Linked DNA regions of Homo sapiens. The protein of the gene in region 2 interacts with the protein of the main gene of each other region in a pairwise test. Each region holds a gene or a part of one and is shown on either strand. Other genes may lie near its edges. The genes, in order: CCDC33, SYT17 and NINL.

Region 1 (3,649 bases), on a different chromosome or scaffold from region 2:
AGGCATTGACACTTTCAGTAGTTTTCCCATGGTCATGTTAGCTGGTATGTGGTGGAACCAGAATTTGGACCCAGACAGTCTGGCTCTAGAGCCTGAGCTCTGAACTCTCTTGTTATACACAGAGATTGTGTACTTGGCATGCTTCTCCTGTGTTACAGACGAGGACTCTTGTGGTTCAGTAATGTGCCTGAATTTCCACAGTGAGGATTTGAACTGTGGTTCAAATCAGGGTCTGGCTGGCTGAAAGCCTGAACTCTTGCACTGTCTCACAGGGTCACCCTGTACTTGTCTCCCAAGTTGCTCAGGGGCAATTTCTCTGGCTTGGTTCGTCATAGTCCCAGAGGCAAGACTGGCTTCTGGGGTTCCAGGGAGCTCCTCACTTCTAGACTGGGTGACTTCCCTGGTGGGTGCCTTGACAGAAGCTTCTGGAGAAGCCAAATTCTCCTATGGAGGTGTGGTGAGGTGGGGCAGGGTGAGGCAGGGTGGGGCCAGGTGGGCACGCTAGGGGCCCAGTTCAGGGCAGGGGGCTCACCATGATGGGGAGCCGCTCCACGTGAAGCCCGTCCAAGCCTTTCCCTGTCAGCATCTTCTGGTACAAACGGCTCTTTAGCGGCAACACAGAGATGCCCAGGGGCTGGTTGAGGGTCCACGGCTGGCTGCCTTTCACTGTGGGGGAAGGATCAACTAGGGCTCCTGCCAAAGCCCCCACCTCGGCCCCATCCTTTAATACCTGACATCCAGTCCTCCTGTCTCCCGCTGCCTGCTTTCCTGCCTCCTGGCCTTTCCCTGCACATACATCCTCTTCTCATCTTCAGGGCTTTGTGAACTCAAAGCCAACTCTAAACATACTCTGTGTGTCTGGGAATTTATATACATCAGCCTCATCTCTACCCTTTGGGGGCTTCAATCCCACAGTGCAGAAAACTGTGGATCAGCTGGTCTCTGAAGCCCATCTCCCTCACCCCTCTCTGTGAGTTCCGAGGGCTCCAGCCCTCCCCCATCACTGATGGGTGCAATAAAACAAAGCTTGGGGCCAAGACCTAGTATGGGACAGGCCCACGTGTCCTGGCCTGTGGACAAGGAACGCAGCCAGCTCTCCTCTGCCTGCATTAGGAAGCCGCCTGGACACCTGGGAACCATCCATCCCTGTGGGAGGCAGAGGTGGGATGGTCTGAACACCCTTTCATAATACAGATCTCCTGAGGCATGGCTGCCCTGGCGAGGCACCAGGGGTCACGTACTTGAAGTTGAGGAGTAGTACTCCAGCACCAGGGCTGTGTCTTCTGAGAAGCTGGTAGCTCCATCTCGGCCTTGGAAGAGGAAGGACTGATTCCACAGGGGCTGCTCTGGGGGTCCCCCAGGCTTGGACAGCTGGAGGGAGAGGGTAGGAGCAGGTGGTGGGGGCCACAGCTTCTCCCAAATCAAGGCATACACAGATATTTGGTTTTGTGTATCTAGATTTGTCACAAATGTTTCTCCCAACTATAAAAGCAAGCTGGCTGGGCACAGTGGCTCACGCCTGTAATTCCAGCACTTCGGGAGGCCAAGGCAAGTGGATCACTTGAGGTCAGGAGTTCAAGACCAGCCTGGCCAACATGGCAAAACCCTGTCTCTACTAAAAATACAAAAATTAGCTAGGTGTGGTGGGGGACTCCTGTAATCCCAGCTACCCAGGAGGCTGAGGCAGGAGAACTGCTTGAACCCGGGGGGGCAGAGGTTGCCCTGAGATGAGATTGCGCCACTGTACTCCAGCCTGGGTGACAGAGCGAAACTCCGTCTCTAAATAAATAAAATAAATAAATAAATAAATAAACAAATAAATGCAGCACACACCTAATAAATACATTTAGGAAAATGCAGAAAAATAGGAAGAAGAAAAACAGCTCCTGTGTTCCTATGATAAACACAATAATTCATAAAACTGTGCTTCTTCCTAGTTTTTTTCTGTGTATATTTTGTGTATAATCACCATTCTAGCATCCTGCATTTTTCATTTGCCAGTAAAACCTAAGCAGATCCAAAGTCACAGAAAGCTCATTACCCATGACTTGAGTAACTTCAGGATATGAAGTTCATGTCCAAGTGCCCTGATTTCTTCCTTCCCATTTTTCCCTGTAATAACACTGCATTGAACGTTCTCTGCTACATATCTTCATGTCGCAAATTACTTCCTTAGTACAACTACCTAAAATGGAATTGCTGGGTTATAGGACATGTGTATTTTAGGACACCTCATTCATTATTGGTAAACTGTTTTCCTAAAGTGTTGTATCTGTGTTCACACCCATGGCTGGTGGTGTCACAGATGCCAAGTTAGACATGACCTCTGTCTGTGTCACCAGCCCCTCTCTTTCCCACACAGTTTCCCCAGCCCCTTGCAGAGGCCAAGACATCTCTGCAGACTACAGAGGCTCCGTGTGCCCGCAGTGTGGGCCAGTGGGCACTCGGGGGACTTGATGGCACCCTAGGTCAGCAGTTAGGGCACACACATGGGTATGATTTAAACAATGAAACAAGACAGTATTAACTGTAGCACTGCCCAATAAGAGAGCTATATGAAATATTCCCATGGGTGGTCAGAAAAGCCTCCTTAAAGGAAGCAGAACCAGAGAAAGGCTCTGAAGGAAGGTCTGGCTGGGTGAAGAGAGGGATAAAGGTCTTCAGGATGGGAAAACAGCACAATCAAAAATGTGGAGTGGCACTGAGCACACCCTGTGCAGAGGACGCCTGAAATGAGGAGAGACTCCAGGGGGAGGCCCAGCATCTGCCAAGGCCAGAAGGTGGGAGATGGGAGATGGCCATCGGCCCATAACTCCCAGCAGGCAGCCCTGCAGGGTCCCAGCACAGGGCGGGGCTGCGGGTCGTTGCTACAGACCCACCAAGTGGCTGCCTTGCCTCTGTTCCCCAGCCAGGGGCTGTCAGCAACAGTAGCAGCCGCTCCCACCTCCTGCTCCCCCACAGGAATCAGTCATTGCTCGAAAAGGTCAGCACAAATGCACTGCGGCTCCAGGAGTTATTGATGCAGGATCATGAAATATCAGTGTAGGTCCACTTCCCCACAGTGGCAGGGTGCTGATGACGGTCACACTAATGGGCCTGGTTTGTCCAGGCCCAGCCCAAGGCTCAGCTGTGTCTGCCCCTGCCCCTGGGGAGATGGGTTGCAGTCACTGCAGGGCTAGGGTGCCCTGGACACCTGAACAGAGACTGCAATGATGGGAACATCCCACTTCTTATGGGAGCTTGGCCAACAGGTCCGGTGAGAGAAGTTGGTTCTGACTTCTGTGGGGCTTGGGAGTGATCTTTCAAGATTGATCCCCAAACCATGTCCCTCCCAGAGTCACCCCATTCTCCTGGGTGCAGGAGGGTCCACATGGCTGGGACTGTCTGCCAGGCATTGGGGCACCTGTGACTCAGTCCCCTGCCGTCCATACCTTGCTCCTACCCTGGAAGAGGGTTATTTAGTAGACGCTAGCTGCCCTTTCTGGGACCTATTCATGTGTCTAAATGGAGCCTATGAAGCCAGAGGTGGTGAGTGGCTGCCGGCCCAATAAGGAACAGCCCTTTCCCTGAGTAGTTTCCCAGGGCAAGTCACTTAGGAAAGATCACTTCAGACCTAGGACTGGGGAGGGAGGGTCAGCCTGTCTTGTGC
Region 2 (3,649 bases):
ATTTCCCATCTGTGAAATGGGATGATAAAAAGAATAGTATTTCTCTCAGAGTTGTCGAAGGGAGTCAATGAATTTGGAATGTGGAAAAGTAGTTAGGAATGCTTGATACTTTGTTGGTGATCATACATGTAAGTAACTCTGGCTGGGCGCAGTGGCTCATGCCTGTAATCCCAGCATTTTGGGAGGCTGAGGGCAGGCGGATCACTTGAGCTCAGGATTTCGAGACCAGCCTGGGCCACATAGTGAGACCCCCCCCATGCCCCATCTCGACAAAACATCAAAAAATTAGCCGGATGTGGTGATGTGTGCCTGTGGCCCCAGCTACTCTGGAGGCTGAGGTGGGAGGATCGCTTGAGCCTAGGAGGTTGAGGCTACAGTGAGCTGTGATTGCGCCACTGCACTCCAGCCTGGGAAAGAATGAGACCCTGTCTCAAAAATAAATACATAAATAAATAAATGAGATATGCATATAATATGCTTAGCACAGAGCAAAAGTTTTATAAGCATTTATTTCTGTCAGTATTAGGTTTCAATAGAGATTAATTAAACTGATACAAACACAATGTTAAAGAACTCTTCCATTATTCATTATTCATAAGTTGTGGCCTGAATCCTACAGGTGTGTGTAGAGTTGAGATTTTTGGTGAAAGCAACTCATTAATCAAGAGATAATTCACAGCCGGGTGCCGTGGCTCTCATCTGTAATCCCAGTGCTTTGGGAGACTGAGGTGGGAGGACTGCTTGAGGTCAGGAGTTTAAGACCAGCCTGGGCAACACGATGAGACCCCTATCTCTACAAAAATTTAAAAAATTAGCTGGGCACGTTGGTGCCTAGAGTTCCAGTTCTTCGGGAGGCTGAGTTGGAAGGATCGTTTGAGCCTGGAAAGTCAGGGCTGCAGTGAGCTATAATCACGCCACTGCAGTCCAGCTTGCGCAACAGAGCAAGACTTCAAAAAAAAAAAAAAAAAAAAAAGGATTCTACTGGTCTATGTAGCAGAAGTTAGTTCAGTCCATCTGATGTCCTTAAAGCTATGCTCACAAGAATGCTATCTCCATGTGGGCAGGGAGTTTTGCCTGCCTTGTTCACTCAGAAAAAGTTGTTGACTGACAGACTATCCTGCAGGCAGAACTTGCATCCTGAAAGTGCCAATCATCAGTTGAAAAGTTAATCTCAGTTCCTTTTGTAGTTATTTCTTAAGTACAGTGTGCCAGGCGCTGTGGTATACACAGGGCTAGATAGGGTCCTGTGACCATGCTCAGGGAATTTTCAGTCTCACGTAGGAGGTAAGGCAGGTATGTAAGTCAGGTTGCCCCCTAGAGTTGTGCATTTACACCCTGCATTCCATATATGACAGTCCTGCATAAGACCTTGTTATGAAAGAATCAGGAATGATGGCTTCAGGCATAGCTGGATCCAGGAGCAGAAATCATGTCATCAGAGCCTTTCTCTCTCTCTCTTTCTTTCTCTGTTTCTTCTGTATTGGCCTCATTGTTAAGCTTGTTTTCTCCATGTGGCAGCACTAGACTTGCATTCTGTTGCGGTTGCATAAAAAACGAACAAACAAACAAAACAAAACCAGGAAAGACTCTTATTAGCCTGGCTCGGGTTATGTACCAATCACTTTCACTTGGAGGAAATGGTGCTAGAATCATGCCAGTTACCTGCCCACCCAGGAAACCAGGGAGATGGTCATTTCCACCAGAAACACAGGAACTGAACTATTAGACCAGGGGTTGGCAAACTTTTAAAGGACCAAATAATAAATATATTAGCCTCATGGGCCATATGGTCTCTGTTGCAGCTACTTATTTCTACCATTGTTATGCAGAAGCAGCTGTAGACAGTAAATGAACGGGCACGTCTGTGTTTCATTAACACTTCATTTACAAAATCAGGCAGTGAATTTGGCTTTGTAGTTTGCAGACCCCTGTAATAGACAATTGGGGTATTGTGACTAGAGGGGAGGAAATTGACTAGAGAGGTGGGCAGACATCACCCCTTGTAGAGATAGGCGTCTCATTGTGTTGCCCAGGCTGGTCTTAAACTCCTGACCTCAAGCAGTCCTCCCACCTCAGCCTCCCAAAGCACTGGGATTACAGGTGAGAGCCGCGGCAACCGGCTGTGAATTATCGCTTGATTAATGAGTTGCTTTCACCAAAAATCTCAACTCCACACACACCTGTAGGATTCAGGCCACAACTACATCTAGGAAGAGCTGGGGGAGCCTGCAAGCTTAGGCTGAGTTGGGTCTTGAATGCCAGAGTAAGGAATCTGGATTTTCTTCGATACCAGCGGAGACCCCTCACAGGTGTTGAGTATCACAGCCAGGTACCTGTTTGCCCCCTAGATATCCAAATGTTGAGTGTTACAGATGCACAGCCTAGGTTCTCATGTTGAGCTGGAGGACAGTTGCGTTTTGCCTTGACTGCTGCTAACCCTTTGTGTAAGCAGGGGCAAGGGGGCTGGGACCCTCTGGGAAGATACTTCTTTTGGTTTTGCCACTAGTAGAGAAGTGGACTGGAACTTTCCCAGCAGGGCCAATACACCACAAAATTCCAGGTGGCGCCATTCACATGGTGGCCATTATGAATGGCACCACCTAGGGTTGTGCAGTCTACAGACTGAACAGCTGTGCGTGACCTTTGTGCTTCCCAGGATGAATGAGGTCTCTTCTGAACACTGGGCAGTGCTTAATACAGTTTTGACACTCAGCATAATGCAAAACGGTAAGAGAAATCTGTAAAGGGAAGATGGCTAAATCATTCAGAAAGTAAATTTACAGCTTTGTGTTTTCCCCAGATTTATTTACCAAGTGGGCAGCTGCATGTTATCAAACAGACAGGAAGTAGAAATGTCAAGTGTATGGGCTTTGCAGTGCTGTTCCTACTGCGACATTTGAGCCAAGAACCATGGGACTTGCCTCTGTGGACTGGCATGTGGCAGATGAGCTGGCCCTTTGTGTGTGCTCTGCGTGTGATCTTGGGGATACATTAATTGTCACATATGCTCATGTCCTGTGGGCCCCCAACTTTTCTTGGCTGGGCTGGGCTGGTGAAGATTAGGAAAACTGCACAATCTGACTGGTGCTTTTTGAAGCAATGCCAGAAAGACCCTCATTGAAGAGTGAATTAAAGTCAAGTTGGTTGATTGTTTGTCGAACAAGCACATATTGAATGCCTACAATGTGCAGAGCTCTTACAGCCCTCTCAGAGATGCCCCACTTGGCGATTGGGAGTGTGTGCCATTTAGAGTTTAGCATTACTGGCTTAGCTGGGGTTCTGCCTTTTAACAGTGGTGCAAATTAGTTATTCATCCTTCTCCCAACCTGTATTAGTTTGTTTTCTGTTGTGATAAAGGGATACCCAAGACTGGGTAAGGTTCAAGTGATTCTCCTTTTTTTTTTTTTGAGACGGAGTCTAGCTCTGTCGCCCAGGCTGGAGTGCAGTGGTGCAATCTCGCTCACTGCAAGCTCTGCCTCCCGGGTTCATGCCATTCTCTTGCCTCAGCCTCCCGAGTAGCTGGGACTACAGGCGTCCGCCACCACGCCCGGCTAATTTTTTGTATTTTTTTTAGTAGAGATGGGGTTTCACCGTGTTAGCTAGGATGGTCTCGATGTCCTGACCTCGTGATCCACCCGCCTCAGCCTCC
Region 3 (3,649 bases), on a different chromosome or scaffold from region 2:
CACAGCAGGGGGAATGAAGGCTGCTCGTTCTCTGACTGTAGATTATTCTGGATTCTCCAGAGGAACCCAACGTAATCACAAGTGTCCTTAGAGGTAGAAAGTGGAGGCAGAAGAGTCAGTGTTGGAGTAAGGTGACATGAGGAGGACTCGGCCATCCAGGGCTGGCTTCCAGGATGGAAGGACGCCTCAAGTCAAGGCCACTGGAGAAGGTGAGGCAGGGAGCTCCCCTCGGGGCCTCTGGATGGCCCTGCAGCCCTGCCAGCACCTCATTCCTAGCCCAAGGAGACCCTTTCCTCTTCCAACCTCTAAAACTAAAACATCGCACTTTTGTGCCTTGTTAAGCCACCAAGTCCGTGGAAATGCACACGAAGGAAGAACAGACGGACCAAGGGCCAACCATGCAGTGTCAGCAACCGGGTCTCTGACACGGACAGCAGACATTCCAAGGGTGGAGAGGCGGCCATTTAATGGCTAGATGTGCGTTCCTAAGAATACTGTCTTACAAAAATGAAGGAACATTTAAGATACTTTTCAGATAAGCAAAAACAGGAAATTTACTCTAAACAGAGTTTCACTAAAGGAACTTTTTTTTTTTTTGAGATGGAATCTTGCTCTGTCACCCAGGCTGGAGTGCAGTGAGTGGTGTGATCTCGGCTCACTGAAACCTCTGCCTCTCAGGTTCAAGCGATTCTCCTGCCTCAGCCTCCCAAGTAGCTGGGACTACAAGCGCATGCCACCATGCCCGGCTAATTTTTGTATTTTTTTTTTTTGGAGACAGAGTTTCGCTCTTGTTGCCCAGGCTGAAGTGCAGTGGCGCGATCTCAAAACTCACTGCAACTTCCACCTCCTGGGTTCAAGCGATTCTCCTGCCTTAGCCTCCCGAGTAGCTGGGATTACAGGCGCACGCCACCACACTAATTTTTGTATTTTTAGTAGAGATGGGGTTTCACCACGCTGGCCAGGCTGGTCTTGAACTCCTGACCTCAGGTGATCCACCCACCTTGGCCTCCCAAAGTGCTGAGATTACAGGCATGAACCACCGTGCCCTAGTTGTTACGAGGTTTTAAATTCCTGATTCCTGGTGGTGCACGCCTGTAATCCCAGCTACTCAGGAGGCTGAGGCAGGAGAATCGCTTGAACCTGGGAGGCAGAGGTTGCAGTGAGCCCAGACAGCACCACTGCACTCCAGCCTGGGCCACACAGCGAGACTCTGTCTCAAAAAAAACAAAAAACAAAAAACAAAAAAACCTCCTAACAAAGCCCAGGAGCTGATGGCTTCACTGGTGAATTCTACCACTTAAAAAAGAACTTCCACCACCTCTTCTCAAACTCTTCCAAGAATTGAAGAGAAGGGAACACTTCCAAACTCATTCTATGAGGCATTACTTGATACCAAAGCCAGACAAGGACACTACAGTCCAGAAAAGAAAACTGCAGACCAATCCCTTATGATGCAAAAATTGATGCTAAAATCCTCAACAAAATACTAGCAAAAGTTATTGTTTAATGGGTATACAGCCTCTTCTGGGAACAACAATGAAAAATCTTTGGAAGCGAGGGCCGGGCGCAGTGGCTCACGCCTGTAATCCCAGCACTTTGTGAGGCCAAGGCGGGCAGATCACCTTTGAGGACAGCCTGGCTAACATGGTGAAACCCCGTCTCTACTAAAAATACAAAAATTAGTCAGGCGTGGTGGCAGGTGCCTGTAATCCCAGCTACTTGGGAGGCTGATGCACAAGAATATCTTGAACCCGGAAGGTGGGTTCAGGACCCCGAAAGGCAGTCCTGCCCTCCCTCTGCCCAGTGGTAGAGCACCAGATGACCGTGGCATTCCGGGACGGGGCTGGGCTCACAACCCCTACTCAGGCTGAAGGGCTACACAGCCCCCATCAGGGGCTGCGAGCTTGTCGGCAGGAAGGGCCACATAGCACCATTAGCAACAGGGGTCAGTGGGTTAGTTCTGCATTTTTAGTTTGAAGTGTTTAGTTTTAAGAATGAGTAGAAGGCAAACCTGTCGTTCTCTCTCAAATCTACATGTTTCTCCAGAGCCCGGACGACGTCTTCCAGATGTAGAAGTTTGGTTTCCATGTCATCCTTCTCTCTCTCCAGCGCTATTTTGGTCTCCCCCTCTTCTGGGGCAGCAAGCTGCTCCTGCCAGGAACCCTGCGGGTCTGCGAGCTGGAGGTGGGATGGCAAGGACCCTCTCCTGGCAACCTCCACACTGTGCTTGTGACACCCAGGCTCCAGGGCGCCCTCGGCCCGGGCCTGCTGCTCCGAGGCCTGCTCCTGGGTGCCCCTGCTCCAGCTTCGTGCTCGCTCTTCCTGAATGGCCTGTAGCCTCTCAGCCTGTCCCCTGCACGAAGCGGCCGGCCTCAGGGGTGGCTCCCACATCCGTGGCTGGGTTTGCGAGGCGTCTCTCTCTGTTCCCAGCAGAGGCAGCTCCCGGGCTCCAGGCTGCTCCAGCCCCGCTGCGCTCGCGCCGAAAGGCTCTGGCTCCTTTGGGACAATATCCCCATCCACTCCACAGGGCTGCATGCGTGACCACCTCTCTGAGGGGCCGTGGGATGCCGGGGCAGGGGCGGGGGCCGGGCTCTGCGTAGCTTCTGTGTCCTGGGCTTGCCTGCGGCGAGGCCCGGCTCCTGCCGCCTCCTCAGACTCTCTGCCATCACCTGGGGCCAGCCAGGCCAGTGGCCGCTCCCCACAGCCCGGACGCAGTGGTAGGAGGCCACGTGTGCCCTCCTGGCCACTTCCTGCCACCAGCCCATCTTTCGGCAGGGCCTGCATCTCTGCTTCCAGGGAGGGCCCGTCCACTCGCTTCCCGCGGGCAAGCTCCAACTCCTCCTCCTCGAGGGCCAACGATACGCACATCTGGGCGCGCTTCTCGCTCGCACAGGGCTGCAGCTTCAGTGCCCTCTCCAGCTCCAGCTGCTCCGACCTCTGGCTCCCGCGTGGCAGGGGTCCCTGCGGCGGCTCCTCCAGCTCCAAGGTCAGGTCTCTGCGAGCGGGCAGGGCTCCCAGCCCCGACAGCTCTCCACTCAGCTCCGCCTCAGCCTCTCTCCTGTGGAAGTAGAACCGTCACACACCACAGCCCTGCCGCCCCCAGCCCCTCTCTCGGGTTTGAAGTCTGCCCAGCTGTTGCAACGGCTGCGACCTCCTCTCTGTGGTTGGCTTTCTTTATCCCTCCTCGCCTCCCTCAGCCCTGGCTTCAACCTATACCCTGGGCCCTACTTCAGAGTCCAGACGAGGATCCGCCCCACGGAGCGAGGTTCTGCACATGGAAGCCCAAGCACGAACCCTTTCCATGTGGAGTGTTCACATGGAAGATGGCCGCCACCATGCAGGACCTGGTTGCAGCCCCTCGGCCGTGCAGGCCACGTTCCAAGCCCTCAAGGCTCCCAACTGGACAGGGCAGACATACGACGTGGCCCACACTGCAGTGGGTTCTACACGATAGCGCTGGAGACCCAGAGCCAAAACTGTCCCCTAATTCCCTGAAGCTGCTGGGCCTTGGGACCTCTGGTGGCCCGCAGGAGAGTCCAGTGGAAGTGAAGTGAGAGCTGGCAAGACCACAGCACCAGAAGGGGTATGTGGTCCATGCCTGGCCAGGGCAAGGGGAGCAAGGAAGTGGTTGGAGGGCCTCCACCTCCAA

Evidence for each region.
Region 1: the proteins of SYT17 (region 2) and CCDC33 interact in a two-hybrid assay, tested with the Homo sapiens proteins (one large-scale study listed by BioGRID).
Region 3: the proteins of SYT17 (region 2) and NINL interact in a two-hybrid assay, tested with the Homo sapiens proteins (one large-scale study listed by BioGRID and IntAct).

The regions. Positions count from the first base shown.
Region 1 is NC_000015.10:74,277,685-74,281,333, reverse strand, and holds part of CCDC33 (coiled-coil domain-containing protein 33), read right to left. Parts: intron 2,216-3,649; exon of another isoform or gene 2,042-2,215; intron 1,372-2,041; coding exon 1,242-1,371; intron 667-1,241; coding exon 533-666; intron 1-532.
Region 2 is NC_000016.10:19,174,695-19,178,343, forward strand, and holds part of SYT17 (synaptotagmin-17), read left to right. Parts: intron 1-3,649. UniProt on the Homo sapiens protein: Plays a role in dendrite formation by melanocytes.
Region 3 is NC_000020.11:25,474,032-25,477,680, forward strand, and holds part of NINL (ninein-like protein), read right to left. Parts: intron 3,059-3,649; coding exon 2,012-3,058; intron 1-2,011. UniProt on the Homo sapiens protein: Involved in the microtubule organization in interphase cells. Overexpression induces the fragmentation of the Golgi, and causes lysosomes to disperse toward the cell periphery; it also interferes with mitotic spindle assembly.